2 separate regions of the Homo sapiens genome follow, and region 2 is linked to region 1. The links come from fine-mapping of genetic effects on gene expression. A gene starts in region 1. The other region holds a variant in brackets. All regions are shown on one strand. Distances are from middle to middle.

Evidence for each region.
Region 2: its variant is fine-mapped to the expression of P2RX7 in whole blood (TOPMed, PIP above 0.99). The same link has a PIP of 0.9 or more in prefrontal cortex.

Annotation. Positions count from the first base shown.
Region 1 is chr12:121,131,503-121,134,417 of GRCh38, forward strand. P2RX7 (purinergic receptor P2X 7) reads left to right here and starts at 1,374. Exons shown (of 13, transcript NM_002562.6): 1 at 1,374-1,593. The coding sequence starts at 1,469. All of the region lies in intron 2 of LOC105370032 (a long non-coding RNA gene), which reads right to left.
Region 2 is chr12:121,170,593-121,173,507 of GRCh38, forward strand. The region is part of intron 8 of P2RX7 (purinergic receptor P2X 7); the gene reads left to right. All of the region lies in intron 2 of LOC105370032 (a long non-coding RNA gene), which reads right to left. Among named protein-coding and RNA genes, the nearest start is that of P2RX4, 38 kb to the right of the region's middle. The variant C/T (reference allele first, on the strand shown) is at 1,338.

The DNA of each region.
Region 1 (2,915 bases):
CAGAAGCCCTGCCTATATGCAACTGAGAAGGGCAGGGCCAGGGAGTCACGTCCATCCTCACTGCTCTCCAGTCTCCTGAACTGGAAGCCAGAAGGTGAGGGGAACCCTGATGCAGTTTGTATGTGTGAGAAAGTACAATTAGTTTAGACTGAAAAACTGAAAATCTACCCGGCCACTTAGCAGGCTGGAATAACAGAAAGGGATCAAGCCAGCTGTAAAGATAACAGGGAACAATAATTCTCTGTAGCTGTAAAGTGATAATACAACCCTGCATCTTTGAGTGACTGCTGAAACATTGTCCTTTAAAATCAGAGACCTTCAGAAACTTTGCTGTTTGAAATTACATGACTAAGACTGAAATATTCCAATTTTGCCTGGAAGATTTAAGTCATCTTGACACAGAGAAGCAGCCTCAATTTACAACTCAGGAGCAGAGCTTCAGATAAAGATTTTCTGGACACATTTGACATGTATCTTAGCTATGTTGCTTCCTAGGAAACAGGGCCCTGGGTCCTCTTTGCAATCCAGACTGAAGTTGACTGCTTTGTACAAACCTGTTTTGCTTTGAGTCCATCAAAACATGACTTCATTTAGATTTTATCTCAACTCCACTTTCCTCGGAATCCTATAATAAATTGCTGTTTTCCTTTGTTTGGTGATGTGCGTAGCTCTTCTGGTGGGTGGTGTCCCTCACTGAATAGGTCAACAAACCTAACTTTGTTGGACTGCCACTGTGTCCCTGGTGATCTTTGGCTGATTGGTCTAGGTCATAGATCGACCTGCCGGGGTGCAGAGGAGGGTGGAGAGTAACTCAGAGGGTCAAGCATGAAAGATCTGGCAGAAAAATAAAGCCCCTCCACCCCCACCACCCCTACCCCTGCAAATCTGATTTCCCCCACCAACTGCAGACCAGAGTATTATAAGGGGCGGTGGAAGAAGAGGGGGAGATCTTCATTTACCCAGAGCTCCTATACATCAGGGGCTGAATAAAGGGTTGTAGAAATGAATGAATCAATCTCTGAGTGGGGCTTCAGGCAATGGAAAGATCTCAGTCCTTTTCTGAGGCATAATGGAAGCTCCCAGTCTTGTGACATTTGCAAGGCTGCCCCTTTCTCCCAAGAGACATGAGACCAAAAAAGTGAAAGGAAAGGGGGGAAAAGGGAGAATTCTAAAAATGCCCATCCTCTGAACACCATCTTTGTGTAGGCATCTGGGGGAGGCCAGCTGGGGTGAGGTCATCTGCCAGCCAGGCCCGTAGGACTTGGCGCTTCTTGTTTATCACAGCCACATGTGGGGCCACTGCCAGGGCCCGCCCCAACTCTGCAGTCATTGGAGGAGCTTGAAGTTAAAGACTCCTGCTAAAAACCAGTACGTTTCATTTTGCAGTTACTGGGAGGGGGCTTGCTGTGGCCCTGTCAGGAAGAGTAGAGCTCTGGTCCAGCTCCGCGCAGGGAGGGAGGCTGTCACCATGCCGGCCTGCTGCAGCTGCAGTGATGTTTTCCAGTATGAGACGAACAAAGTCACTCGGATCCAGAGCATGAATTATGGCACCATTAAGTGGTTCTTCCACGTGATCATCTTTTCCTACGTTTGGTAAGTGGGATCTGGGGAGGACCCAGATCTCTGCAGTGGCCGACAGCACAGAAAGCCCCAGCGGGCAGCTTCAGGTGCACATTCTGAATCTCACATGGTTTTCGAATCTGAGACGTGCTCTCACAGCCAGCTGGGCGGGAGGGAGGAAGCAGCAGCAGGCAAGAGGAAACGGTGCCAGGCTGCAGCAGAGAGAAGCCACAGGACAAGCGGGATTCCTTTCTGCTCTACTTCAGGCCCGCCAGGGCGCGCAGGGCAGGGCGTGCCTGGGGAAGGTAGGAAAGCGCAGGGCAACACCCTGGATCCCCAGGGAGGAGGCGAGGATCTCAGGGCACGCCTGGTGATCATGCTGGCATCTGAGTCACCATGCTTGGGAGGAATAGGACCAGGCTTGAAAATGTGTTATAACTTTAGGTCCTCACCAACGTCAGGAAGGCCCTGCTTTTTGGTTTTTGTTTCTTCTAAAAGAAACTTACTGAGATATAATTTATACACCATACAATTGACCCATTTAAAGGGTACCATTTAATGATTTTCAGATTATTCCCAGAGTTGTGCAACCATCCCCACAATCAATTTTAGAATATTTTAATCGACTCAAAAGGAATCCCACACTCCTTCACCATCATTTCCAACACTGTTCCTCCTCCTTCCCACCCATCAATTTCCTTTCTGCCTCTATGGATTTGCCGATTCTGGACATTTCATATAAATGGAATCACATAATATGTGGTCCTTTGTGGCACTTAGCGTGTTTTCAATGCTCATCCATGTTGTAGCATGTGTTGATACTTCATTCAATTTTTTTTTTTAAAGAGACGGGGTCTCACTATTTTGTCCAGGCTGGTCTCAAACTCCTGGACTCAAGTGATCTGCCTGCCTCGGCCTCCCAAAGTGTCAGGATTACAGGCGTGAGCCATTGCACCCGGCTGATACTTCATTCCTTTTTACGGCTGAGTAGTACTCCATTGCATGGATAGACCACTTTTTTCTATCCATTCATCCATTGATGGACATTGGGGTTGTTTCTCTTTTTTGGCTATCATGAATAATGCCACATGAACATTTGTGTACAAGGTTTTATGTGGATATATATTCTCCTTTCTCTCGAATATGTACCTAAGAGTAAAAATTGCTAGGTCATATGTTAACTATGTTTCACCTTTGGGGGGAATGTGGAGCTGAATTTCACAGCAGCTGCAGTTTTTTACATTCCTATCAGCAGAGTATGAGGGATCCAATTTCTCCACATCCTCACCAACGCTTGTTATCGTCTGTCTTTTTGGGTTTTGTTGTTGTCATTTTGTTTTTGTCTTTGAGATGAA
Region 2 (2,915 bases), 39 kb after region 1:
GGTGAAACCCTGTCTCTCCTAAAAATACAAAAATTAGCTGGACGTGGTGACAGGTGCCTGTAATACAGCTACTGGGAGGCTGAGGCAGGGAGAACTGCTTGAACCCGGAAGGTGGAGGTTGCAGTGAGCCGGGGTCATGCCACTTCACTCCAGCCTGGGCGACAGAGCAAAGCTCTGTCTTTAAAAACAACTTAAATAAATAAATAAATTGTTGAGGTCTGATGAGTAAGTGGACAAGTTATTTTCCAGCAGACACACAAAAGAGAAGGAAATTACAGGTTATACGAGGTATTTCAGAAAATATAACTTTCTAAAACATAGGAAGTTGAAGAAGTTGATCACATTACAGAATTCTGTTGTTTAGAAAATGACCTGTGGCGAAATGTCCTTATTCAGTGAATAGGTGATTCCGCTTATGCACGACCTGTGTGAAGTGGATCAGGCCACCCAGAATGCACGACGCGCTTCTCAGGCCCAGCAGGAGTATGTGTCTGTGTTAATTTCCTGTGGCTGTTATGACTAATTGCCACAAATGTGGTGGCTTAAAACAACAGAAATTAATCTTCTTATAGTTCTGGAAGCCAGAAGTTTGGAATCAAGATGTCAGCAGGGCCACACTCGCTCTGATGCTCTACGGGAGGGTCCTCTCTTGCCTCTTCCAGCGTCTGGTGGCTCCAGGCATTCCATAACTTTATAGCAGCGTCCCACAAATCTCTGCCTCCATCCTCACATGGCCTTCTCCACTGTGTCTCTATGTCTTCAATCTCTTTTTTTTTTTTTTTTTTTTTTGAGGCAGGGTTTCACTCCAGTCTCCTAGACTGAAGTGCAATGGCGTAATTTCGGGTCACTGCAACCTCTGCCTCCCGGGCTCAAGCGATTTGATCTCTCCTTTATCTTATAAAGATACTAGTCATTGGATTTGGGGCTTACCCTAAATCCAGGATAATCTCATCTTGAGATGTTTAACTTAATTATATCTGCAAACACTGTATTTCCAAATAAGGTCATATCACAGCCACTAGGGATTAGATACTTGAACATATCTTATTTGGGGGCTCAACCCATTCCAGTGTACGAAAAACACTCTTGTTCAAGGCCCGATGTTTCTCAGGGCATAGCCCACTGACTACCTGCATCAGAATAATCACTTGGTACCTGTACTGGAAATACAGACTCCTAGAAACATCTCAGAGCTTCTGCAACCACTCTTTGAGTGAGGGGCTCAGGAGTCTGCCTCTGAACACACTCACCCCAAGTGATTCTTTCTTTCTTTTTTTTTTTTTTTTTGAGATGGAGTCTTGCTCTGTCCCCCAGGCTGGAGTGCAGTGGCGTGATCT[C/T]GGCTCACTGCAAGCTCCGCCTCCCGGGTTCACACGATTCTCTTGCCTCAGCCTCCCGAGTAGCTGGGACTACAGGTGCCCGCCACCACACCCGGCTAATTTTTTGCATTTTTAGTACAGACGGGGTTTCACCATGTTAGCCAGGATGGTCTCGATCTCCTGACCTCGTGATCTGCCTGCCTCGGCCTCCCAAAGTGCTGGGATTACAGGCGTGAGCCACTGCGCCCAGCCATCACCCCAAGTGATTCTTGCCTTCAGTTTAAGAGCCACTGTAACAAGACTCTGGAAGCAGAAATTCACGTGCTTACTACACAATGTTAACCTTCCCAGGCAAACCAACTCACATAGGGAGATAATGCCAATCCCAGGGCAGGCAGTGGCAATGCATGCTTGCTTGCGAATTAAAAAACAAATCACTGCCTGGGCACGTTGGCTCATGCCTATAATCCCAACAATTTGGGAGGCTGAGGTGGGTGCATCACTTGAGCTCAGGAGTTCAAGCCAGCCTGGGCAACACAGTGAGACCATCATCTCTATAAAAAAATTTTAAAAATTAGTCGGGTGTAATGGTTTGCACCTGTAGTCCCAGCTGCCGGGAGGCTGAAGTGGGAGGATGACTTGAGCCCGGGAGGCGGAGGCCACAGTGAGCTGTGTTCAAGCCACTGCACTCCAGCCTGGATGACAGAGCCAGATCCTGTCTCAAAAAAAACAAAAACAAACAACAACAACAAAGATAAATCACTCAATACATCAGCAAGAGAAAAAGCTCTCTTGAAATAGTCACATGCAAAGAAATTGAATTCCCTCCAGTCAGAAAGAGCCACTAAAGTGCCTGAGAATATCTGATCGATTTCAATGTCAGGTTTTGAGAGGTTTTTTAAAAACAGTTTCAGATGTTTCTTACTATTTTTTGGCAGAACATCTGCCATCTGCTTTCTTCTCTCCCTACATCTTGTAACTAGACGGTGAATTAATAACTCAGAAAAAATAAACATGTATATGTAACTTTATCTAAAAAGAATCATCAAAGTGTGGTGAGAAGAAGGGGCAGATTTAAAAGTTTTATGAAGCGTTCATTTTAAGCCTCCTTAATTATTCTTGAAAAACAAAACACACCACTTTTCCTGACTGCAGCACTGGTGAGGGTTGCATATCACGGGTGACTGTGATGATTTGTGCCTGGCGCTTAATTTTTAAAGTTAGTACTGAGTGATGACAGAGAGAGGTCAATGCCACTCAAAGAATATTTTGTTTGTTTGTTTGTTTGTTTGTTTGAGAGGCAGTCTTACTCTCTCACTCAGGCCGGAGTGCAGTGGTGTGATATCGGCTCACTGCAACCTCTGCCTCCTGGGTTCAAGTGATTCTCCTGCCTCAGCTTCCTGAGTAGCTGGGATTACAGGCGTCTGCCACCACATCCAGCTAATTTTTGTATTTTTAGTAGAGATGGGGTTTCATCATGTTGGCCAGGTTGGTCTCAAACTCCTGACCTGAGGTGATCTGCCTACCTTGGCCTCCCAAAGTGCTGGGATTACAGGCGTGAGCCATTGCACCTGGCCAAGAAGAATTTATTACATACTT